Linked DNA regions of Homo sapiens. The protein of the gene in region 1 purifies or fractionates together with the protein of each later gene. This does not show direct contact. Each region holds a gene or a part of one and is shown in the gene's direction. Other genes may lie near its edges. The genes, in order: C1orf87, FKBP15, PPM1B, CDK5RAP2, PPP2R2D, UBR2 and AKAP9.

Evidence for each region.
Region 2: the proteins of C1orf87 (region 1) and FKBP15 purify together in Homo sapiens (affinity purification with mass spectrometry; one large-scale study listed by BioGRID and IntAct). This does not show direct contact.
Region 3: the proteins of C1orf87 (region 1) and PPM1B purify together in Homo sapiens (affinity purification with mass spectrometry; 2 studies listed by BioGRID and IntAct, with this or other methods). This does not show direct contact.
Region 4: the proteins of C1orf87 (region 1) and CDK5RAP2 purify together in Homo sapiens (affinity purification with mass spectrometry; 2 studies listed by BioGRID and IntAct, with this or other methods). This does not show direct contact.
Region 5: the proteins of C1orf87 (region 1) and PPP2R2D purify together in Homo sapiens (affinity purification with mass spectrometry; 2 studies listed by BioGRID and IntAct, with this or other methods). This does not show direct contact.
Region 6: the proteins of C1orf87 (region 1) and UBR2 purify together in Homo sapiens (affinity purification with mass spectrometry; one large-scale study listed by BioGRID and IntAct). This does not show direct contact.
Region 7: the proteins of C1orf87 (region 1) and AKAP9 purify together in Homo sapiens (affinity purification with mass spectrometry; 2 studies listed by BioGRID and IntAct, with this or other methods). This does not show direct contact.

The regions. Positions count from the first base shown.
Region 1 is NC_000001.11:60,070,971-60,074,974, reverse strand, and holds the start of C1orf87 (uncharacterized protein C1orf87), read left to right. Parts: upstream 1-1,204; 5' UTR 1,205-1,285; intron 1,286-2,304; 5' UTR 2,305-2,331; coding exon 2,332-2,438; intron 2,439-4,004.
Region 2 is NC_000009.12:113,172,778-113,176,277, reverse strand, and holds part of FKBP15 (FK506-binding protein 15), read left to right. Parts: intron 1-1,694; coding exon 1,695-1,850; intron 1,851-2,672; coding exon 2,673-2,825; intron 2,826-3,500. UniProt on the Homo sapiens protein: May be involved in the cytoskeletal organization of neuronal growth cones. Seems to be inactive as a PPIase. Involved in the transport of early endosomes at the level of transition between microfilament-based and microtubule-based movement.
Region 3 is NC_000002.12:44,199,875-44,203,374, forward strand, and holds part of PPM1B (protein phosphatase 1B), read left to right. Parts: intron 1-1,311; 5' UTR 1,312-1,325; coding exon 1,326-2,171; intron 2,172-3,500.
Region 4 is NC_000009.12:120,573,668-120,577,167, reverse strand, and holds part of CDK5RAP2 (CDK5 regulatory subunit-associated protein 2), read left to right. Parts: intron 1-3,500. UniProt on the Homo sapiens protein: Potential regulator of CDK5 activity via its interaction with CDK5R1. Negative regulator of centriole disengagement (licensing) which maintains centriole engagement and cohesion. Involved in regulation of mitotic spindle orientation.
Region 5 is NC_000010.11:131,953,008-131,956,507, forward strand, and holds part of PPP2R2D (serine/threonine-protein phosphatase 2A 55 kDa regulatory subunit B delta isoform), read left to right. Parts: intron 1-2,676; coding exon 2,677-2,956; 3' UTR 2,957-3,500. UniProt on the Homo sapiens protein: Substrate-recognition subunit of protein phosphatase 2A (PP2A) that plays a key role in cell cycle by controlling mitosis entry and exit. Involved in chromosome clustering during late mitosis by mediating dephosphorylation of MKI67.
Region 6 is NC_000006.12:42,672,029-42,675,528, forward strand, and holds part of UBR2 (E3 ubiquitin-protein ligase UBR2), read left to right. Parts: intron 1-1,762; coding exon 1,763-1,859; intron 1,860-2,097; coding exon 2,098-2,165; intron 2,166-3,500. UniProt on the Homo sapiens protein: E3 ubiquitin-protein ligase which is a component of the N-end rule pathway.
Region 7 is NC_000007.14:91,999,862-92,003,361, forward strand, and holds part of AKAP9 (A-kinase anchor protein 9), read left to right. Parts: intron 1-986; coding exon 987-3,374; intron 3,375-3,500. UniProt on the Homo sapiens protein: Scaffolding protein that assembles several protein kinases and phosphatases on the centrosome and Golgi apparatus. Required to maintain the integrity of the Golgi apparatus. Required for microtubule nucleation at the cis-side of the Golgi apparatus.

The DNA.
Region 1 (4,004 bases):
CATGTGCCAGTGGGTGATATATTCACCTGTAAAGCACAGTACAGCTAGAGGTTAGGAGACAGGGGAACAGATGCTGGAGCTGCTGCTGCCTATGTTGATGCAAATAACAATACCGTTTGGGAATCAATCTAAAGTGTCTTTGCCTGCATCAGCTGAAGTTTCTTTTAGCATAATAACAACTGTCTGGAAATGTAGGATATGCAGATCTATATTCTAATCTTAGCTCTGTACTTGCTTTTGCAGGATTTGGAGTAGTTTATCAATACCCCAACTTGTTTCTTTTCTCTTTAAAATAAAGTAAAACTATTTTGTTTATAACTATTAACTTGTGAGGTGAGAGTTATCCAGCTTGTCATAGGGATCTGGCATAGAGACAGTACTCAACGTTATTATTATCAATCTATAATATTCTGGTTTTTTTGTTTCTTTGTTTGTTTGATATGGAGTCTCGCTCTGTTGCCCAGGCTGGAGTGCAGTAGTACCATCCTGGCTCACTGCAAGGTCCACCTCCCAAGTTCAAGCAATTCTCCTGCCTCAGCCTCCTGAGTAGCTGGGATTACAGGCGCGCACCACCACGACCGGCTAATTTTTTGTATTTTTAGTAGAGACGGGGTTTCACCATGTTAGCCAGGATGGTCTCAATCTCCTGACCTCGTGATCTGCCCACCTCGGCCTAACAAAGTGCTGGGATTACAGGGGTGAACCACTGAGCCCGGCCGATATTCTTATTTAATTTAGTCACCAAATCGCAGTTAGGACAGTGTTATTATTTTGCCCCGTTTCACAGATGAGGAAACAATCTCAGGGAAAAGAAGGGATTTACTCAAGCCATACAGTGGAGACGTCTGGATTTGAACCTACTGTGTTGGAATCTCAACTATGTGCAAACTCACAAAGGGAAATGAAGCCTTCGGAGGAAGGGCGGGACAAGGGTGACCACACAGGTGAGCGAGATGGGCTTCTAGAAGGACGCCCGCATATCTCTGAGGAACAGAGAAGGCACAGATCAAAAACACCTAGGCTCTTCACCCGTTGGCAGCCAGAGCCTGGGTCCATTGCCTAGGCAGTGGAGAAAAACCTGGTCCCCGCCCAGAAACAGCCTTCAGCGTCCTTAGCGACCAGGGCGGAACAGGCGCCGCCCGCGATGCGGGCCCTGTGATTGGCCGGATTCCTGGGCTCGGTCCCCACGCCCCGTCCCGTCCCCGGGTCTGAGAGTGTCAGCTTCCTGGGGAGAAGCACGGACCGCGCACCTCTGAGCTGCCAGGGTGGGGACGCTGCCCTAGCGGTAAGCCCCCCGACTCTGTTCTCTCCGGGCAATCAGGGCCGACACGCAGCTGCTGGGCAGGGAGGGGATTTGAGGATCACGAGTTCCGGGTCTGGAAGATTCCAGACAGGTGCAAAGAGGCTGCAGGTCCCCGGGATGAGGGGCTGCCCTAGCACAGGTCTTTAGTATTGGACTTTTGGGAAGAACCCTGGCCTAGACATCAGACCCAAGTACTGGAAACAGTCCCGTCCTTCATTCCTCTGTGACCCTTGTCAAATAACACACCCTCTCTGGGCCTTAGTTTTCCAATCTGTGAAGGAGCCTTTGGAGTAGAATGATTTCTAAAGGCCTTTCAGCCTCTGGGTGGTTCTAAAAGGGAGTGTTCAGCTGTGGCCAGATTTACTGAACTTCTGATTTTCCCTTGGCATCACTCTGTTTAAACACCTTGTGCAGGAGTTCAATTTCAGATTCATTGTATTGTTGTAGAAAGAGATCAGTGATAACAACAAAAGTCTGTCTGTCTTGTGTACAGTCTCCCTTCAGATGCATTATCTCCTTGGATTCACCCTCAAGTCCCTGAGAACAGACCTAGAATTACCCTGATCTCATAAATGGGGAAACTAAACATCAGAACTGAATATGGATTCTTCATATGTCCCACTAATGCCCTTGTTTCTGCTCTGACCTCACTGGAATTCCATCCTATGTCTTGTAGTACAGGAAGGTAGAGTCACCTAATGATTCAGTAGATCTGCTGTACAGACCTCTTAGGTGAGATTCCCAAGTCGGCTAATTACTGGTGATGTGATGTGATGTGAGTAAGTCATATAGCTACATTTTGCTTGTTTCCTCAACAGTAAAACAAAAATGATAATAGTAGTTAAAAATATCTTTCTCATGCCTTTGTTAGGAGTGTTAAGTGAGGTAATATAGGTGAAACACTTTGTCCTGCTATTATTATTGCTTGTTGTTATTGGCAAGGATGATGCAGTTCCCTAATGGAAAATCAAGAGGAACAATTTACTTATTTTCACCCCTAGGGATCTGAAGGGATTTTGAAAGGAATCATGTCTTCAGCCTGGAAGACTCCCCGTGGATCAGATGCAATGCCTGAGATCATGGTGAAAATCATTGGAAGTAAACACTTTCAATACCTCGTGGAGAAGCCAAAGATGTAAGTCCATATTTGAAAAATATCTATGTTGCTTGGATGATAATGAAGTTTTATTGTTTTGTTTTCACCCAGAAATTTAAACTTAAAAAATGCCATCCATGGAAAACGAAGTCATTAAGATGCAACAGTAGAGGTAAAATCGTGTTGATAACTTCCATGTGCACTGTTTTCCTGATATTTTTCATCTTTATAATTCCCCATACTCCTTAATTACTTGGGCTGATTTTCCAAATAGATGGGAAATATGAGCATTGCGACATTTATAAATATTAATGGAGCACTGCTGCCTTTTCTCATCGGGCTTGTAATCTACCACATGTACTAATTTTGGGGAGAGTGGGGGAGGTTTAATAGTCAATTTGTTGTGAATTACAGGAGTAGGATTAATACAGAATCATAAATTGTAAGGTTTTCACTTACTCCTGTTTGTATTTGATACTCCTCTAAGCTTGGGCTTCTCAGATCATGGCTAAGATCTCTTTCTTCTATTCCAAACCCATCAGAGTCACATTTAAGAGATGACACTCCTGTATTTCTAATATTCACCAGATGTTTCAGCACAGAACAGTATGACTAGCTCTTTCTTACAGAGTTTCAGTGGCTCAAAAAAGGAGGGAAGGTACTAGATCTGTCTTTCATATAGTAGGCGTTCCATAAGTAATAGCTAGTCAAAAATTACTTTTCCTTCCTAAGATTATTTCCTTAGCTCTATCTTCTATTTCAGAAACTCATAGACTGAACAAATATACAAAGATATGGTATTGTTGAACATAGGTGCAAGAAGAAATTTTTGCTAAACCTAGCTGTCATCAGAATCACTGGGAGAGACCTCAAAAATACAGATTCAGGAACCAGCTCAAGGTCTGCTGAATCAAAATCTCTGAATGTAGGTCACCAAGACTGCTGTTATGAAGTACAGGCTTTAATAAGGCTTTAGAAAGGCACATTAGTTCTACTTCCCTACTATCAGTATTGTAAGGTCTAGAGGGATTCCAAAGTGACTGCTATAATCAGTTAGTAATGTCTGCCACTGCACAGGAACTGAGGTTTGCAGCACGTGATTCATACATTTGGGATCCCTACAGTGCTGAGAGGTGTGAAATTGAATCTTAGGTCTGATTCTTTCTTGCCTTTTTGACATTGGGAAAATGAATTAACATCTTTGGCCTTAGATTCTACATATATGAAGTGGGGATAAAACAACACCTATCTAGTAATAGGGTTATTGTGAGGATTAAATGAGAAAAAGTATGCAAAGCACCTTTCCAGTGTCTATTATAAATAACATGCTTAGTAAATAATCCTGCTATTATTATAGAAGTCTTTCTATAGATATAAAAAATGTAACAAAAAATCGAACCTCTTTCTCTGAAATGTTTGATGTCCCTTTTATATTCTATGCCTAGGACACAGTTTATGTCTGTTTTGTAGATGAGGAAACTAAGACACTGTGATATGGTAAGCGATTATTTTGAGATATGTCAAATCCCTGTCACTGTCAAGAAAAGTAAATAGAATTAGTTTGGACACCTGGCTCAGATCTCCTACCTGGAAAACTATATTATT
Region 2 (3,500 bases), on another chromosome or scaffold:
AACTTTTTTTACAGTAGTGGTATCACGTTTAATGTTTTTTAGGAAAATGTCATGGACTTGTACTACATAAGAAGGAGATCTTTCTCACTCGTAGTTAACTGCTGCATAGTAGCCTACTATGAGGCTGTACCATAATTTGTTTAATGATTTGCCTATCGATGGATATTTATGTTTTTATTTTTTCATTATTTTAAGCACTGCTTCTATGGACATTCTCATATTATATAACTGTTTTTGCAAATTTGTTTGAGCATTCCTACGTGATGGATTGCATGAGTAAGAATCATGGGATCAAAGGGAAGGCTACATATTTGAATTTTTATAAATATTACCAGGTTATCCTCAAAGAATAGTGCTTACACTTTCAGCAGTATGTGAGTGAGCCCATTTGTCACATTCTTCCCCACTCTACATATATCACTTTTTCTAATCTTCATTAGTCTGACAGGTGAAATATGTTATCTTGTTTTAATGTGTATTTTTATTAGTAGTAAAGCTTTCATATATTTAATACCTATTTGTATTTCTTATGTACATTCTCTCTTTAGTGTCCTTTATCCTTTTTCCTATTATTAGTTTGATTTGTAAACCCTTTTAAGGGTATCAATCCTTTGTCAGTCATAGATGTTGTAAATATTTTTCTAGCTTGCTGTCTTTTAACTTTATTTATAGTATCTTTTGTTGGTTAAAATTTTAATATCAGGAAATACTAAGTGAACAAAGTGAGAACATTTCTATCTTTTTGTCTGTTCTGGAATCGTTTAAATATGAAAATAATAAACTGCTCCTGAGGCTTCAGTAAATCTCATTAGGTAAAGCTGTTTTGGCCCAGTGCCTTTTAAGAGGGTAAATCTTGGTCTGCAATTGCATTTTTTTCCAGGATTTTTTCCATTTTATTTATTTATTTTTAACCAATTCCTTCTAACCTCTTGGCTGTTTTCAGTTTGTCATTACTATAGATACTACTACAGTGACCATCCTTGTAACACACTCTTTATGACTATGACTTATTGAATCCTTAATTACAATTTGTGGAATTTCTGGATACGTATGTTTTTAAAGGCTTTTCACAGGATTACTATCCAAAGAGAGTATATCCATTCGTTTTCTTACTATCAGGGTATGAGAATGTCTGATTTCCTGTACCTTTATTAAAGTTAGGATGTTCCCTAGCTCTTTTTTTTTTTTTTTTTTTTTTTTTTTTTTTTTTTTTCTGAGGCGGAGTCTCGCTCTGTCGCCCAGGATGGAGTGCAGTGGCGGGATCTCGGCTCACTGCAAGCTCCGCCTCCCGGGTTCATGCCATTCTCCTGCCTCAGCCTCCCAAGTAGCTGGGACTACAGGCGCCCGCCACTACGCCCGGCTAATTTTTTGTATTTTTTAGTAGAGACGGGGTTTCACCGTTTTAGCCGGGATGGTCTCGATCTCCTGACCTCGTGATCCGCCCGCCTCGGCCTCCCAATTTCCCTAGCTCTTAATAGAGGGGTAGATACAGCTCTTCTTGTTTTCCTTCTCCTGTCACCATTTTCCTCACCCAGTAGCCAAGAATGTTAAATATTTAGGGGAAAATTCAACTAAAAAATGGAGTTTTCAGAAATGGAGTAAGGATTCCACAAGGTAATTAACTGCCACCGCCATCATCCCTCTTTATTCTCTGTTAACAAGCTAGAGCTGATGATGGTTCTCTTGTTCCTAAGAACCTCTCAGAAAGGAAAAAGAAGTCAGCTCAAGAGCGTTCTCAGGCCGAGGAGGAGATAGATGAAATTCGCAAGTCATACCAGGAGGAATTGGACAAACTTCGACAGCTCTTGAAAAAGACTCGAGTGTCCACAGACCAAGCAGCTGCAGAGCAGGTAATGGGAAACTGAAGCACTTTGAAAATAGAGGGAAGGTGTGAAGGACTCAGAGAGAAAAGCTTCTGGTTTCTTCCTTACCCTTTAGGATGACATTTCTCATAGCTGATACTCTCACTTTGGAGAAAGGTAGAAAAAGTAATCCAGATATGTGCAGGAGAGCCAGGAATCAAATGGAGAATCTTCTTTCTTTTTTTAAAGCTTAGTTAATATTTAATTACATAAGTAAAAATGAAAAATAGTTTCCTTACAAAAAAAATTCCAAACATGGTAAGGCCAAAACCATCAACCATTGGACACCATCCTTCAGGCACATTATCATCCTTGAAAAGAAGGGATTGATTTAGGTCATCAGGAAGGGAACCAGGGATAGTGGCAGGACACAGCTGGATCTCTAGTCTGTGCAACAGCAACCTTTCTCATTATAAGCTTAAAATTTATATGCATACATTTGTTTAATTAGAGTGCATTGGTGCCCTCAATTTGACCACCTCTGGGAATTTTGGTGAAAAAAAGTTTCTGAACCTATAAAGTTTAGGGTTCAGACCCTGAAAAGCAGTGATCACATGGCCCTGCCCTCCAGGGACCTATCTAGATAGGCACACTTTTGTCTGCTTGGAGTACCTTTTGGAGTCCTGACAACCAATGACATCTTAAGAAGTGCATTTATTTTAAAAGTAATGAGTCTTTTAAACAGTTTCCCAGTTAAATCTGGGCTGTTAGCTTATTCTTTTGCTTTTTGAAAGATGGGTTTCCCTAGGTGCAATGGAATCTCACTCCCCCACCCCCAAGGATGATATGGTCATTACTTTCTCTTGGCAGCTGTCTTTAGTACAGGCTGAGCTACAGACCCAGTGGGAAGCAAAATGTGAACATTTGTTGGCCTCCGCCAAGGATGAGCACCTGCAGCAGTACCAGGAGGTGTGCGCACAGAGAGATGCCTACCAGCAGAAGCTGGTACAACTTCAGGAAAAGGTACATATTTTTCTTGAGTCAGACAGTTTAGGCAGCCCAGTTAATTTGAGGCAAGCAGGCTGTTTGAGTCCTGTCGATCCTTCTAAGCCTGAAAGTTATTAATATCTAGAAGACAAAACCACACTTGTTTAGCTTGTCAGTTATCTTTCACATACTTATGTGGGGTGATAGGTCAGTGACCTGGAAAAAGAGAAAACAGCACTAGTGTTCCGGAACATGTTTCCCATTATTATTGGATCCTTCATTTATTAAGCAAATATTTATTGAGAGTCAGTTGTATTCCATCCAGTGTGTTAAAGGAAGTGCATACAAGGAACCCTTCCCTCATGTATCTCACAGTCAAGAAAGGGAGACAAAGAAACAAAGATAGGTGTTAAGTGCTATGGGGCCCAGAAGAGGAAGTACCCAGGAGAGCTGGGAAGGTTTCCCAAAGGTGGTGACATTTGAGCAGAGCCAAGAAGGACAAATAGCTTTGGTAAGGCAGCAAAGGAGGCAGAACATCCTGGGCAAAGGCACTGAGATAGGATGGAGGCTGGGGTGTGGTGGGATCATCAGGCCTGAAAAAGAGAGATGGGACATGGCTTAGGGTCATGGTGTGAAAGTCCATATTCGAGGTCAGTTTCTTTCCTTAAAGTGTCCAGTTGAAAACTTTTGGCTCAGAGATCTTGGAGGCAA
Region 3 (3,500 bases), on another chromosome or scaffold:
GGTTCATCAGATTTTTTTAAATGGCGATATGTAATTTTATTGTAAAGTTCAATAATGATCATACCTGGAAAAAATCTCACAAAGATACGTAGACCCAAATGGAGGTAAATTGATCTAGACCAGTGTCTCTCAAAACTTTAAATCACCAGCATGCTTTTTTGATGATTCCATCTAAGATCTATTGAAAAAAATCCTTAGGTGTGGGAATAGGGCTATGGAGTCTGCATTTTGAGCAGATATAACAGCAAACATTTTATGGTGTTTATTGTGTTTTAAGTGCTGTTTTAAGCACTTTACATTGACTCATTCTTCACAGCAGCCCTATGAGGTATAGGTACAGGTGACTAAGAAATTTGCCCAAGGTCACCTAGTTAGAGTGTAGGGTTAGCATTGTATGTAGAAAACATACCAGAGAATTCTTTTGCATACTTTTGGGAACCATTACTCTAAGTCTAATCTAAGTCATTTGAAATTGGGAAAGCTTTATTCTATAAAATAGTAAAGTTGGGTAGGCGGGGAGAGGGTGATGCATAGTAGTACTTTCCAATTCTAAGGATTTTAAGTCTTTGTCAGTCAACACTGGGTAGCTACTTCATGGATTTTAAGTTCAGCAAAGTGAAGTCCATTTTTTAGCACCATGTTAAAGGTATGTTTTTAACAGAATCAAAGTAATGATAAGGTTTTCAGTTTTATAGATATATAGTAAAAGTGATAAAACCAAATGTGTGTAGAATGGAGATTTTTATGTTTTAATTGAATTTTGGGGTTGTCTTTAGGTTCACTGGGAGGAGAAATCTTGATTTCAATACTTGCTTTTGAAAGTCTTCTAAAGTATATTAGTATACCTTCCTACCTTGATTTATTGAACAAGATGACTCACTGTTTTGAATATTCTCATTGTCCAGTCTTCTGTAAACTTACATGTCGAACCCTAGACTCACCTTGTAAATTAAATCAGAATGAAATTATTAATGAAGTTTTATTTCTTGTTTTTTCCTTTCTCCTAGAACAGTGGTCTCAACGTGGCTGCACATACAAGTCACCAGAGAGGCTTTTAAAAGATGATATCTGTGTCCCATCCCTAGGGATTCTGATTTAATTGGTCTGATTATTCTTACGCGCTAGGGCTGAGAAACCACTGTTCTGTAGGATGTAGGGGAGGAAATTTCTTGGGCTTTTGTTGTTGCTCCCGTAAATTAGGATAATACTAAAAAAAATACTTGAGGTAGGAGTTACTAGACTATAGAGGGAATATTGTACATACATTTTCTGTCAAATTTAAACATTTAACACCTGCATTTTTTATTTCAGATTTATTGCTAAACATGGGTGCATTTTTGGATAAACCCAAAACTGAAAAACATAATGCTCATGGTGCTGGGAATGGTTTACGTTATGGCCTGAGCAGCATGCAAGGATGGAGAGTGGAAATGGAAGATGCACACACAGCTGTTGTAGGTATTCCTCACGGCTTGGAAGACTGGTCATTTTTTGCAGTTTATGATGGTCATGCTGGATCCCGAGTGGCAAATTACTGCTCAACACATTTATTAGAACACATCACTACTAACGAAGACTTTAGGGCAGCTGGAAAATCAGGATCTGCTCTTGAGCTTTCAGTGGAAAATGTTAAGAATGGTATCAGAACTGGATTTTTGAAAATTGATGAATACATGCGTAACTTTTCAGACCTCAGAAACGGGATGGACAGGAGTGGTTCAACTGCAGTGGGAGTTATGATTTCACCTAAGCATATCTACTTTATCAACTGTGGTGATTCACGTGCTGTTCTGTATAGGAATGGACAAGTCTGCTTTTCTACCCAGGATCACAAACCTTGCAATCCAAGGGAAAAGGAGCGAATCCAAAATGCAGGAGGCAGCGTGATGATACAACGTGTTAATGGTTCATTAGCAGTATCTCGTGCTCTGGGGGACTATGATTACAAGTGTGTTGATGGCAAGGGCCCAACAGAACAACTTGTTTCTCCAGAGCCTGAGGTTTATGAAATTTTAAGAGCAGAAGAGGATGAATTTATCATCTTGGCTTGTGATGGGATCTGGGATGTTATGAGTAATGAGGAGCTCTGTGAATATGTTAAATCTAGGCTTGAGGTATCTGATGACCTGGAAAATGTGTGCAATTGGGTAGTGGACACTTGTTTACACAAGGTATGTAAACTTTTTTGTCATTAAAATAACATGTTAATTTTGAAAAGTTACGGTAGGTAAAGTTAAGCTAACTTAAAATTTTAAAACTTTTAATATTTTCACAGAAGCTGTATATTTTGAAGTACTTTACCAGAAATGAAACCATTGTTTTCTTTGCCATCCTTGTTTGTCCCAGCCTTCTAATTTGAAAATTAAGCTTGATAAATTTGAGGCATTTGTTGTCATTTAAGTACTTCATAGCTTGTTGCTGTAGCAAAAGCATTTACACAGAGTGACTTTTTCTTGACATTGGCAGTAACCATCTTATGCCTGATTATGAAGCAGCTTGATAAAATATGTATATAGTAGAATTCTGTACTAGATATTACTAAAAGATCAAGAGCCATGTGAAATATTGGAAGATGTACTAGATGCCTAGCCTGTATAAAATTTAGTCCTGAGCCTCCTAGCAGTGAAGACAAAAACTGAAATAAAAATATGGGTTGTATATTTCTCATTGTCTTCTAAAAGCAGCTCTTATCTGGCAATACAATCTAAAAAGGATTTACATGTGGCTCTCTAAGTAATACATGACTTGGATAGTATCTTTTGTAGAAGATAAAATTCTTTTCATATAGATGTTTTTATTATTTCTGATTAAAAACCAAAGGCTTCTATAAAACATAATCTTGTGAAAAATTCCTGTGGAACACTAAAGTTTATTTAGATTTGTAATTTTGTATGAATCATTGCTTGATACAGTAATAGAAAAAAAGTCCAGAGTAATAGATAATTGGCAATCCTTTGAATATCTTTAAAATACTCAGTTGTTTCAAGTGGGTTTTTGACAGCATCTATATATAATTCAATTAAAATTTGAGTTATCTGGCCAGTGTCTGGAGTGTGTAAGTATTTGACTGAAAAGATACCAAGGTAAAACTGACCTTTAGTTACATGAAATAAATAAAGGGTTTGACTTATTTATTCTGTCTAGATTAGAACCACTGTATCTCCCTACTCCAAAATGTACTGTGGAAGGTATGGGCATAACCAGAAAGTTTTTCAGAAAGGATCTCTGGGTCTCTGGAAATGCCCAGATTTTGGTTAAATACCGATTTCTTTTTAATAGAATGGAAAGAGGCAGTTTTAAAAACAGAAGATTTAAAGGCCGTTCTTGTCAGTGGACAGCCTTTTTCTGAAAGGATTTTAATGATGGTACCTCTAGCTCCTCTGATTTTTATTTTTAACACACTGTATCTTTTTACTTCTGGATGAGTTAAGTAAAGAAGTATTGATGGTTGTCAGTGATCAAATAGTAAGTGGGTCTAAAATTATGTATTTGTCTTTGAA
Region 4 (3,500 bases), on another chromosome or scaffold:
CTGGTCTTGAACTCCTGGCCTCAAGTGTTGTGCCTGCCTCGGCCTCCCAGAGTGCTGGGATTATAGGTATGTGCCATTGCGCCCAGCCTGTCTCTATGATTTTGACTACTCTAAGTGTCGCGTATAAGTAGAATCATACACTATTTGTCCTTCTGTGACTGGTTTATTTAACTTAGCATTATGTCCTCAAGGTTCATGCGTGTTGTAGTATGTGTCAGAATTTCTTTCCTTTTTAAGGCTTTTGTTTTTAATTTTTTTTAGAGACAGTCTTGCTCTGTTACCCATGCTGGTCTTAAATTCCTGGGCTCAAGTGATCCTCCTGCTTCTGCCTTGCTAAGAGCTGGGATTACAGACACAAGCCACTGTGCCTGCCCTTCACTGATATTTTTATTGTCCTTTTGATTATAGCCATCCTTTGGGTGTGACATGGTAGGTATCTCATTGTGGTCTTTTTTTTTTTGTCGTTGAGACAGAGTCTCACTCCCTTGCCCAGGCTGGAGTGCAGTGGCGCAATTTCGGCTCACCGCAACCTCTGCCTCGTGGGTTCAAGCGGTTCTGGTGCCTCAGCCTCCCAAGTAGCTGGGACTACAGGCACGTGCCACCATGCTCGGCTAATTTTTATATTTTTAGTAGAGACGGGGTTTCACCATGTTGGCCAGGCTGGTGTCGAACTCTTGACCTCAGGTGATCTGCCCGCCTTGGCCTCCCAAAGTGCTGGGTTACAGGAGTGAGCCACCCCGCCTGGCCCTCATTGTGGTATTGATTACATGTTAATGGCTACTGATGTGTTGAGCATCTTTCCATGTGCCTTTTAGCCATTTGTTCACTTTCTTTGGAGAAATGTGTATTCAAATCCATCGTCCATTTAAAAAACGTGAATATATTTTGACCCAGCAATTCCACTTCTTGTCATCTATTCTAGAGAAATCCTCATACTTGTGCATATGGGACCTTATAAGGACATTCATATGACATTGCATGTAAAAGAAAAACTTGGAAACAAATTGAATTATCATCAGTAGGGGATTGGGTAAATACACATCCTTTCAAAAGTATCTTTCAGACTGTGGCCCGTTGGTAGCTCATGAAATTCAATTTAGTAGGTTGCAACCAGGATTTAGAAAAATAGAACAGAATAGAAAACATTTCAAGGATGAAGGGTAATAATATTTCTTCTGTGGCTCATGGTCAGTAAGGTTTGAAGAACACTGCTGTAGAAAGCTTTGTAGGAGTTGAAAACTTTGAGGCATATCTATTTGTACTGTCATGAAAACATCATGAGGGCATATTAAGTAGAAGAAGGATGTTGTAGCATGATGTATACTGTTTGATTGCATGTGTTTTTAAGCAGCAAAATTGAAACTATCTATGTAAAAACACATAAAAAGTTCTGGAAGTTATAGGTCTTTTTGAAAACAGTGATTACCTCCTAGGCGGGTTCTAGATGGGAGCGAGGAGGAGCCAAGGAGAACTTTAGGCTTATCTGTATTTTTTTAAATTTATGTATTTTTCTCTAATTAAGAATAAAATAGAATGAAAAAGGGGTTGTTAAAAGACAAAAGTGAGTTTGTTTGTGTAATCGTTGTCAGAATGTGATATCTGGTCTCATCCATGACTCTCATGAAACAATTTGTCAAGGAGACATAAGACCCCTTGGGTCTTATGGTTTGAGTGGACAATTGTTGCTGGCATATGTAGGCATAGAAAGAGGTCAGTCCTTTTCGGTAGCAATAGAGCAAGATAGGAGGATGAGGTGGTGGAGCTCAGGTGAAGGTCCATTCAGTCACTCAAAAATTATCCACAAACAGTTGCTACAGCTGGGCGCGGTGGCTCACGCCTGTAATCCTAGCACTTTGGGAGGCTGAGGCGGTCAGGTCACCTGAGCTCAGGAGTTCAAGACCAGCCTGGCCAACGTGGTGAATCTCCATCTCTACTAAAAGTACAAAAAATTAGCCGGGCGTGGTGGTGCATGCCTGTAATCCTAGCTACTTGGGAGGCTGAGGCACGAGAATCGCTTGAATATGGAAGGTGGAGGTTGCAATGAGCTGAGATCACGCCACTGCACTCCAGCCTGGGCGATAGAGTGAGAGTCTCCAAAAAACCAAAACAAAACAAAACAGTCGTTATGATGGCTGTGCCCTGTGCTGAGTGATGGAAATTTTATGCCTCAGTCCATTCGGCCCTTAACCACCACCACACCCCTGCCACCCCCAACCTCCGGGAAGGCGTCAGGGGTACCAGGGTGGTGTAGGTTCACAGCAGGGGGTTTAAAGTCAGGCTGGCTTGGAGTTTCCAGCCTATTAACTTTTTGGTCTTTGTTTCCTCATTAAAAAAAAAAAAAAAAAAGGCAACATTAAAAAGTACCACCAGCCGCAGAAAGACTATAGTGAGGATTAAACCTGATTTTAGTTTCAAACATTCAGTTTAGAAAATGGACTTTAATCCTGTGGTGAGGATGAAAGGGAAGGCTGCCTGTCCTGTGCTGAGTGTGGTGCTTGTGCAGCATGGGTGCCCCATACAAGGGCAGGTTTCTTAGATTGTGCTTTATTTTGCACGTGAGGAAACTGGTACTCCACCATGTGTCACATTTATATAGGAGCTTTGGGCAGTCCACACACAGGCTAGCAAGTGGAAAAGACACTGGGATCCTGGATTTTGGGCTTGGCTTTGCCACTAACTTTTGTGATTTTGAGTAAATAAGTTCCTAACCCATTTCTGGGTTTCAGTCTTCTCATCTGTGGAATAAGATCATATCTGAGCCCTTTTGTTTTGCTTACATTGTCATTTCTCGTGAGTATCCCTGAGGCCCCAGCCTTAATTATAAGGCTACAAGTGAATGATTAGAATGGAAAGAGGGAGCTGCTTGTGGCTGGAGGTGTAGTTGGAACTGACTGGAGGGTGCAGATGACAGATTCATAGCATTTTAAAAGTGGGTAGGTAAAGCCCGAGTGGAAATTTGGCAGGATCCAAGCAAAAATTTCTGCATTACATAGTGGTTTTGTCTAAGAGTTGGGATGTCAGATGTCATTTTTCAAACTTCAGTGTTTGCCTGTAGGAAGCTTGTCTAAGACCAGAATCTTTGGCTTTGTTTGCTAGGTACTTTTCAGCTGTGATTGATCTTGGCTTGAGTTATTCATGGGCAGTTTTAGCCAGTGGGAGTTAATGTAATGGCTCTGGTACCCGGAGAGAACCCCAGATTGAGAATGCAGGACCAGACCTTAGGCTGAGCTTGGCCAATAACCTGGTGTATGTGACCTTGGGCTTCTGGACCACCATCTGCAAAAGGTGATGGTTGAACTTGATTTTAGTTTTTAAAATTCAGTTTAGAAAATTGACTTTGTCCTTTTAGTGATGTTTATTGGAGGAAATTGAGAATTATATAACATTAAAAAGGAAGAAAACCTCTCATTTCCCTACTAATGATGATTTTTAATATTTCAGTATATTTCCTTTGTCTTGTTATATATCTGTAGCCCACCTATTTCCAAAATGGACTTGAG
Region 5 (3,500 bases), on another chromosome or scaffold:
TTCACTGTCTTAGTGACTTGCGGGTGTGCAGGGGGTTTCACTGTCTTAGCAGTGACTTGCGGGTGTGTGTGGGAGGTTCACTGTCTTAGCAGTGACTTGCGGGGGTTCCCTGTCTTAGCAGTGACTTGCAGGTTTGCGGGGGTTCACTGTCTTAGTGACTTGCGGGTGTGCGGGGGGTTTCACTGTCTTAGCAGTGACTTGCGGTTGTGTGTGGGGGGGTTCACTGTCTTAGCAGTGACTTGCGGGGGGGTCCCTGTCTTAGCAGTGACTTGCAGGTATGCGGGGGTTCACTGTCTTAGTGACTTGCAGGTGTGCGGGGGTTCACTGTCTTAGTGACTTCCAGTTGTGCGGGGGGTTCACTTAGCAGTGACTTGCAGGTGTGTGGGGGGTTCACTGTCTTAGCAGTGACTTGCGGGGGGTCCCTGTCTTAGCAGTGACTTGCAGGTGTGCGGGGGTTCACTGTCTTAGTGACTTGTGGGTGTGCGGGGGGTTCACTTAGTGACTTGCAGGTGTGCAGGGGGTTTCACTGTCTTAGCAGTGACTTGTGGTTGTGTGTGTGGGGGTCACTGTCTTAGCAGTGACTTGCGGGTATGCGGGGGTTCATTGTCTTAGTGACTTGCGGGTGTGCAGGGGTTCACTGTCTTAGTGACTTCCAAGTGTGCGGGGGGTTCACTGTCTTAGCAGTGACTTGCGGGTGTGTGGGGGGGTCACTGTCTTAGTGACTTGCTGGTGTGCGGGGGTTCACTGTCTTAGTGACTTGCGAGTGTGCGGGGGGTTCACTGTCTTAGCAGTGACTTGCGGGTACATGGATAGTCACTGTATTTTTTATTCCTCTTGATATATTTCAAATATTGCAAAATACCCTTAGATTACATATCCCCAAGAACATCTAAAAGCGTTCCCAGTAACATTTGCTTAGTCCATTCACTCTCAAAAACACGCCAGTCTTCCTACCTGGAAACTTCTGTTGAGGGATGCGATGAAGGGGAGTGAGGCGTTTCAGTGCTGCCTCAGCCCAATCCTGATTCTCCGTGTGGCAGCGCCTTCTTGTGTTCTAGGTCGCCCCACAGAACCAGTTATGTGCTTACGCCTGTGTCTCTGTCTGTGCTGTTCCCTTCCTGGGCCAGCACCAGGCTGCTGGGCAGCGCCCTTGTTTGCAGTGTGGAAACACCCACTCTGGGGCTGGCACTATCTGTCGAGAATTTAAAAGTGATCATAAATCTGTATGAAAGCTGATGTGCTTTTCGTTATTACCATGCACCAGCAATTCCAGTCAGTGTCGGCCATACATCATCTGTCGTCTGTGTTCTGAATAATGGTTACTGTTGAGTTTTAATAACATAAATGTAAGCTTCAGATTCACACATTCTTATTACTTACCCTTTCGTAAACATTGTGTTTTATGTGGAAACTAATTTGGGGAACCCCCAGTCAATGGCCCTCACGTGCCAACTTGGCTGCATACCCCTGTTCCAAGACCACGTGCACAGCTTGGCATTGCTGGAGGGCGCTGGGCACACCTTGTGTCTCCCGCCTCTGTGGCGCTGTGGGCTCCTGGATGGAAGCAGGAGATGGGAAATAAACATGGATCGCTGAATGCAGTTTCTCTTCTCTGAGTTCGTCTTTTTTTTTTTTTTTTCCCCTGCTTTGAAGTTTTAGACAAGGTCAGTCAGACACTAGGTATTTGCCAGCAGCCAGGGTCAGTGCTGGGCCATGGAAGGGAAGCGGCCCGCTTCTTTCTCATGGCACCTTGAAGACGCGCCAGCGTGAAAGGCCTCTCACCGCGCATGACCATGGGGGCAGGACGTGAGGGCGCGGGTTAGTGTCAAAATAGGAAGAGGAGGCGAGCTTCAAGGACGGCTGGAGAAACCAGAAGGGCATTGTTTGAACACATCTTTCATCAGAAACTGGACTCATGAAGCCATGGGTCAAATCATGGCAGCGTTTGCATCATTCAGCTATTTTTCTGTCATTTTTGTAGAAAATGTAAGATTGCAGAGGTTTTTACCAGTATTATGAAGTTATATCATGAGGATGTGTGCGGTAGTAGAATTTTTCGACAGCAGAGACATTTGAAAGCCATTACAGTTGATCTTGAAGAAACAAAAGCATGGACGGTATTGTATTGTCTGGAATGTGTGTGAAATGCAGTTGTTCTAAAATTCTGCCACACTTTGCCCAGTGGATTTTTACTATTTCTATCCGTTGCCTCATTTGAAAGAAACTTTTTGAAATTAATAGAAAAGCAGTTTAACTCCAAAGAAACATTGACAGATATGACTAGTAACTGTTGAACATGATAAGGATTATGTTCAGGTCATTATGGATCATTGACAAATTGCAGAACATAAGGCTTAAAAATAAACTGTGCTGTTATTCATGAGTGAGATAAATAGGTGGGGTTGTTTCAAAAAATACACTAATGTTAAAAGTGTGACTCCATTATTTTGTTTCTCCTGTGACATGGATTCTTACTGACATGATTATAGATAAAGCTCGGTACACATTTTCACTGCATTTCTCTTCTGCCCATTGTGATTGATCATTCCTGATTTCTGAAAGTAACTGGGTTGTGGGGGAGGGTGGCGTGCGCTGTGCACCCCAGGGGTGGGGTCTGAGTCCTTGCTGCCGCTCCCCCCACTGAGGAGTGCTGCTGTCTGCTCTTGTTTTGAACAGCGCCATCATGACCGGGTCCTATAACAACTTCTTCAGGATGTTTGATAGAGACACGCGGAGGGATGTGACCCTGGAGGCCTCGAGAGAGAGCAGCAAACCGCGCGCCAGCCTCAAACCCCGGAAGGTGTGTACGGGGGGTAAGCGGAGGAAAGACGAGATCAGTGTGGACAGTCTGGACTTCAACAAGAAGATCCTGCACACAGCCTGGCACCCCGTGGACAATGTCATTGCCGTGGCTGCCACCAATAACTTGTACATATTCCAGGACAAAATCAACTAGAGACGCGAACGTGAGGACCAAGTCTTGTCTTGCATAGTTAAGCCGGACATTTTTCTGTCAGAGAAAAGGCATCATTGTCCGCTCCATTAAGAACAGTGACGCACCTGCTACTTCCCTTCACAGACACAGGAGAAAGCCGCCTCCGCTGGAGGCCCGGTGTGGTTCCGCCTCGGCGAGGCGCGAGACAGGCGCTGCTGCTCACGTGGAGACGCTCTCGAAGCAGAGTTGACGGACACTGCTCCCAAAAGGTCATTACTCAGAATAAATGTATTTATTTCAGTCCGAGCCTTCCTTTCCAATTTATAGACCAAAAAATTAACATCCAAGAGAAAAGTTATTGTCAGATACCGCTCTTTCTCCAACTTTCCCTCTTTCTCTGCCATCACACTTGGGCCTTCACTGCAGCGTGGTGTGGCCACCGTCCGTGTCCTCTCGGCCTTCCTCCGAGTCCAGGTGGACTCTGTGGATGTGTGGATGTGGCCCGAGCAGGCTCAGGCGGCCCCACTCACCCACAGCATCCGCCGCCACCCCTTCGGGTGTGAGC
Region 6 (3,500 bases), on another chromosome or scaffold:
AAAATTGAAGTCTTTTTTTTTTGAGATGGAGTCTCACTCTGTTGCTCAGACTGGAGTGCAATGGCACAATCTCGGCCCACTGCAGCCTCTGCATCCTGGGTTCAAGCGACTCTCCTGTCTCAGCCTCCCGAGTAGCTGGGATTACAGGTGCATGCCACCGTGCCCAGCTAATTTTTGCGTTTTTAGTAGAGATGGGGTTTCACCATGTTGGCCAGGCTGGTCTCAAACTCCTGACCTCAGGTGATCTGCCCATCTCGGCCTCCCAAAATGCTGAGATTGCAGGCATGAGCCACCATTCCCGGCCTAGATACATTTTTTAGCCTGGGCATTCACATTCAGTTGGTCAGCAGAGTCTGACAAATTCTCACCATTCCTTCTTCTACTTGTTTGGTTCAGCCCCATATTATTTCTTGCCTAGATTATCATAGCAGTTTTTACCCAGAATCTCACTCTTCTCTAATACGTTATTAGAGGGGCTCCTCAAAAGCAATCCTGTTCATATTCTTCATACTTTTACAAACTTCTTAACCTATTTCTCCATTATCACCTCCTGCCAGTTCCCACCCCTGTGGTCCAGACTTGTAGAATCACTGCCAGTTCCTCAATGCTAGTTCCCATGCCTTTGCACATTCCATTTCCTCTGCCTAGAGTACCCTAAGCAGACTGCTACTCTTTCAGATGCTGTTCAAGCTTTCCCTTCCCTTAGAAAGCCCTCTGAACCATGTACTGTGAGTTAGAGACCTCTCATCTGTGATGCCTGCCTCCTTCCCCACTTTCTTCCTTTCCCACCCCAGGACTTTAAGCTCTTTGAGAGCAGGAGGGGGAGAATGGGTTTTATTTGAAGATCTTCAGAACCAAGACCTAGTGTATATAGTAGGACCTCAATATTTATTGAACCAAACATTACAGAAAATTTGGAAAATGAAAAAACAAGCAGGAAGAAAAAAGTCATCAACTTATCACATACCCATCTTTTTCCATTAGCATATTTATGCTTGATTACAATTGGTACTCACATGTAGCTTTGTTTCTGCTGTATTCTTTAAATCAAGAGTTTTCTTATTACTGCTACTTAGTCCTCATAACAATTTTTAATAGCTGCAGGCACCCTCATTTGTACCACCATCTTCTTAGACAGTTTCCCCAATATTTGGAGTATCTCTTTAGGATACTCTACATTTTACGGAAGAGTATCCACATTTTAGAGGATCTCTTTAGGATAAACATAAGAGATATGTGTTTTAGGGTATCTGTTTAGGATAAACATAGAGAAATACTGCATCCGCATCTTGGCTTGTTTATTTGTTTTTTGAGATAGAGTCTCGCTCTGTTTTCCAGGCTGGAGTGCAGTGGTGTGATCTCAGCTCACTGCAACCTCTGCCTCCAGGGTTCAAGTGATTCTCCTTCCTCAGCCTCTCGAGTAGCTGGGATTACAGGTGTGAGCCACCACACCCGGCCTGCACTGGCATCTTGGGAGTGTCCCTTGCTTTCTGTCAGATGCGTATATTCTATATTCTTTTCTTTTCCAGAGAAAACCAGCAACATGGTGGCAAAGAGATAGATTTCATTTATTCAGCACACACTTAGACATTTCCCATTCCATTTATCCTGTGTTAGAGGCATGTCATTGAGATGTCATAGATCTAGTTCCATACCATCTAGAGCAGTTTCATTGTGCATCCAGCTGTGCTCTGAACTAGCATTCCTGAAAGAGAACTGCTTTGCATTTTTGTTTTTTGTTAATTGCGTTGGTTTATTTTAGGATGACTGTCTTAGGTCATTGACGAGATTTGCCGCAGCACACTGGACAGTGGCATCAGTTTCAGTGGTGCAAGGACATTTTTGTAAACTTTTTGCATGTGAGTATTAATACATTTATAACATGTTGTAATTTTTCATCCTCTGAAATTTTGTTTTTAATGGTACAGCTTCTCTCAGTAATGAATTAAATATTTAGTAGTACTGGTTTTCTTATATATAAGCTCTAGCTTATAAATTCTCATGTGTCTTGCAAGAAGATAAATTTAAAGCAGATTATATGCATTTTAACATGTTGGCATATGAAATATGCTAATGTATTTCTCTTTAAATCTGTAGCACTGGTGCCTAATGACAGCCATGAGGAACTTCCATGCATATTAGATATTGACATGTTTCATTTATTGGTGGGTATTGTGCAGTTTGTTTGGACTTCTACGTCATACTATGTAACTTTACCTTAGGTTTGGTGAGCAGTGTAGTGGCAGACAGGAAGGAGTTATGTGATTTCCTTACCCCTTCTGAGTATAATTCTTTTATGAGAAACCTCAAAAAGAAAATATTTAGGAACCTAGTTGAGAGACTTGACCTGGTTATCGAGACGTCCTCTGACTCTTATTTTGCTTTATGGCTGAGGTTAGTATTTTAACCTCTCTGTGCTTTTAACCTGTAAAGAGATAAAAACACCAGCAACGGGTCAGGTGTGGTGACTCATGCCTGTAATCCCAGCACTTTGCGAGGCTCACCCCAGATCACTTGAGGTCAGGAGTTTGAGAGCAGCCTTGCCAACATGGTGAAACCCTATCTCTACTAAAAATACAAAAAATTAGCTGGGCGTGGTGGCACATGCCTGTAATCTCAGCTACTCAGGAAAGTGAGACAGGAGAATCACTTGAACCCAGGAGGCGGAGGTTGCAGTGACCAAGATTGCATGACTGCACTCCAGCCTGGATGACAGAGCAAGACCCCATCCAAAAAAAAAAAAACAGCAACAGAAGCACTGCTGCTGGCCCATACAGTGCTTTTGTACATTTTCGAAAATCTGGCAGATACAGCCCTGTGGTCACACTACTTAGCAGCAGAGAGCCCCTTATAATTCAGGGAAAGGTATGTCCTCTGAGCCAGGACATCCTAGTGCTAAGACACACAGCTGTCCAAATAGTGGGTAGCCAAATTTCAGCCCTACCTCAACTGGGTTCCCTTGCACAGGGTACAGAGTGTACTGCCACACCCAGCAGCCCCGAGTGCTGTGCCTTTATTCTCTGGACCTCAGATTCTGCCCCTTTAAGTTGGTTAGTACCTACTTTATATGACTATGTCAGAACTCAGTGAGTTAATCCATGTAACACACTTAGAGCAATATATTCCTAATAAATGCGGCTATTACTGTTCTCATTGCTGCAACTAAAACCACCACCACTTATACTGCCATGCAGACAGCAGGAGGCCAACAGAGCTAGCATTTGTGTACCTGCCAGCTTTTACATACGTTCACACTTACATCTCTACAATTTACATGTAACATATTGTCTTTAGTTTACCAATAGGGAAACTGAGGCCTGATCAGAGATATTAATTTGTGTAAAACAGCTCATAAGAGGAGGAGGTAGGATTCATATCTAGATATTTATGGGTCCAAAACCCATGTTTTTTCAACTGCCTACAGTCCTGGAGAGAGTTCAGATACTGTTTTTGTTAACAATAAGCTATGTATAGAGGACCCACTGGATTAATGAAATCAT
Region 7 (3,500 bases), on another chromosome or scaffold:
ATTCATTCATTCATTCATTCAAGGCACCTTTAAGTCCTGTTTGCCTGGGACTCCTGTCTCTTTAAAATGATTTTACTTACCTACTTATGTCCTGATCCATTCTGTAGATTTCATGTATTTATTTGTTTTTGAGACTATAGCCCTCTATTACTTACAGAGGCAAGTAAGTTACTGAAGCAAAACTTTGACCTAGGGCCTCTGCTTGACTTTGTCATGCTGAAGTAATCACCATAACAGATATGCCTTGGCCTGTGTCTGGGCGTAGCCCTATCTCCATTCCAAAATAGAATCCCAAATAAGAACTGGGGGAGAGTATCTGCTTTGCTTTGAAAATTCTGTTTAAACCAAAAGTCCTAGGACCAAGTTGTTATGCCATAAATGGTATAGTTGTCTTAGATGTCACTTGAGGTTCAGCCTTTTAAGCATTGCATATCTCTAAATTTCTGACTGACTTAAGAGCCCAGGACTGAAGTTAAGACAGACCGTTAGGAGTCTGTTTTTGTTGTTTTTCTTTTTCCATAGCCCTTGCCCATGACACACATTGAAGTCACCAGAATACATGTGAGGAACTTTTATTTATTTTTATCTTTCTGAATGTGTCTAGAGTATATGCAGTACTTTAGCTATAGAGAATACTAAATATTTAGAATGTTGATCAGTTAATAAGAAAAATGAAAATGTAACAGTTTGGAGACATCTAAAATCAGACTGGGTTTTTAAACTAAAAATTTTAATCACAGAAATGTTAAGAGAAATTTCTTCTAAGAAGGCCAAAACTACTGTAGTGTTTGCTCACAAGTAGTGTTGGTTACACGAGTTCTAAGTGTCATTATTGTGGAAAAAATTGAGGGGCAGGACCAACATTTACTTTTTGTAGAATTTTTTAAAAGAGAAACTTCTGTCAGTCTTTTGGTAATGAGATGAAGCAGTATAATTTGCCAGAAGCTAAAAATGCCATTCTTACATTTTCATTTTTTTTCCTAAAGGAACAAGATAAAAAAGTAGAAAACTCAAATAAAGAAGAAATACAGGAAAAGGAGACAATCATTGAAGAATTAAACACAAAAATAATAGAAGAAGAAAAGAAAACTCTTGAGCTAAAGGATAAATTAACAACTGCTGATAAATTACTAGGAGAATTACAAGAACAGATTGTGCAAAAGAACCAAGAAATAAAAAACATGAAATTAGAGCTGACTAATTCTAAGCAAAAAGAAAGACAGTCTTCTGAAGAAATAAAACAGTTAATGGGGACAGTCGAAGAACTTCAGAAGAGAAATCATAAAGACAGCCAGTTCGAAACTGATATAGTACAACGAATGGAACAAGAAACACAAAGAAAGTTAGAACAACTCCGGGCAGAGCTGGATGAGATGTATGGGCAGCAGATAGTGCAAATGAAACAAGAATTAATAAGACAACACATGGCACAGATGGAGGAAATGAAAACACGGCATAAGGGAGAAATGGAGAATGCTTTAAGGTCATATTCAAATATTACAGTTAATGAAGATCAGATAAAGTTAATGAATGTGGCAATAAATGAACTGAATATAAAATTGCAAGATACTAACTCTCAAAAGGAAAAACTCAAGGAAGAACTAGGACTAATTTTAGAAGAAAAGTGTGCTCTACAGAGACAGCTTGAAGACCTTGTTGAAGAATTGAGCTTTTCAAGGGAACAGATTCAGAGAGCTAGACAGACAATAGCTGAACAAGAAAGTAAACTTAATGAAGCACATAAGTCCCTTAGTACAGTGGAAGATTTGAAAGCTGAGATTGTTTCTGCATCTGAATCCAGAAAGGAACTAGAATTAAAACATGAAGCAGAAGTTACAAATTACAAGATAAAACTTGAAATGTTAGAAAAAGAAAAGAATGCTGTGTTAGACAGAATGGCTGAATCACAAGAAGCTGAATTAGAGAGGCTGAGAACACAGCTTCTATTTAGTCACGAAGAAGAGCTTTCCAAACTGAAGGAAGATTTAGAAATTGAACATCGAATAAATATTGAAAAACTTAAAGATAATTTAGGCATTCACTATAAACAGCAGATAGATGGTTTACAGAATGAAATGAGTCAAAAGATAGAAACCATGCAGTTTGAAAAGGACAATTTGATAACTAAGCAGAATCAATTAATTTTGGAAATTTCAAAGCTAAAAGATTTACAGCAGTCTCTTGTAAATTCAAAGTCAGAAGAAATGACTCTTCAAATCAATGAACTTCAAAAAGAAATTGAAATACTCAGACAAGAAGAAAAAGAAAAGGGTACACTTGAACAAGAAGTTCAAGAATTACAACTTAAAACAGAATTGTTAGAAAAACAGATGAAGGAAAAAGAGAATGATCTTCAAGAAAAATTTGCACAACTTGAAGCAGAGAATAGCATTCTTAAAGATGAAAAGAAAACCCTTGAAGACATGTTGAAAATACATACTCCTGTTAGCCAAGAAGAAAGATTGATTTTCTTAGACTCCATTAAGTCCAAATCCAAAGACTCTGTGTGGGAAAAAGAAATAGAAATACTTATAGAGGAAAATGAGGACCTCAAACAACAATGTATTCAGCTAAATGAAGAGATTGAAAAGCAAAGGAACACTTTTTCATTTGCTGAAAAAAACTTTGAAGTTAACTATCAAGAGTTACAAGAGGAGTATGCTTGCCTTCTCAAAGTAAAAGATGATTTAGAAGACAGTAAAAATAAACAGGAATTAGAGTATAAAAGTAAACTTAAAGCACTTAATGAAGAGCTTCATTTGCAAAGAATAAATCCAACTACAGTGAAAATGAAAAGTTCTGTCTTTGATGAAGACAAAACTTTTGTAGCAGAAACATTGGAAATGGGTGAGGTTGTTGAAAAGGATACAACAGAACTCATGGAAAAACTTGAGGTAACCAAGCGAGAGAAATTAGAGCTGTCACAGAGACTGTCTGATCTTTCTGAACAATTGAAACAGAAACATGGTGAGATTAGTTTTCTAAATGAAGAAGTTAAATCTTTAAAGCAAGAGAAAGAACAAGTTTCATTGAGATGTAGAGAGCTAGAAATCATTATTAACCACAACAGGGCAGAAAATGTACAGTCATGTGATACTCAAGTAAGCTCTTTATTAGATGGAGTTGTGACCATGACAAGCAGGGGTGCTGAAGGATCAGTTTCTAAAGTAAATAAAAGTTTTGGTGAAGAATCAAAAATAATGGTGGAAGATAAAGTTTCTTTTGAAAATATGACTGTTGGAGAAGAAAGTAAGCAAGAACAGTTGATTTTGGATCACTTACCATCTGTAACAAAGGAATCATCACTTAGAGCAACTCAACCAAGTGAAAATGATAAACTTCAGAAAGAACTCAATGTACTTAAATCAGAACAGGTATGTTTACTTCTTCATATATGGTAAAGCACAATGAAAAAAATGTACATTTCACACTAAGGTTTCACCTTCATAGAACATAAGTTCATATCCTTACAAGAGAATGAAAATGAACCCTCTGATGTA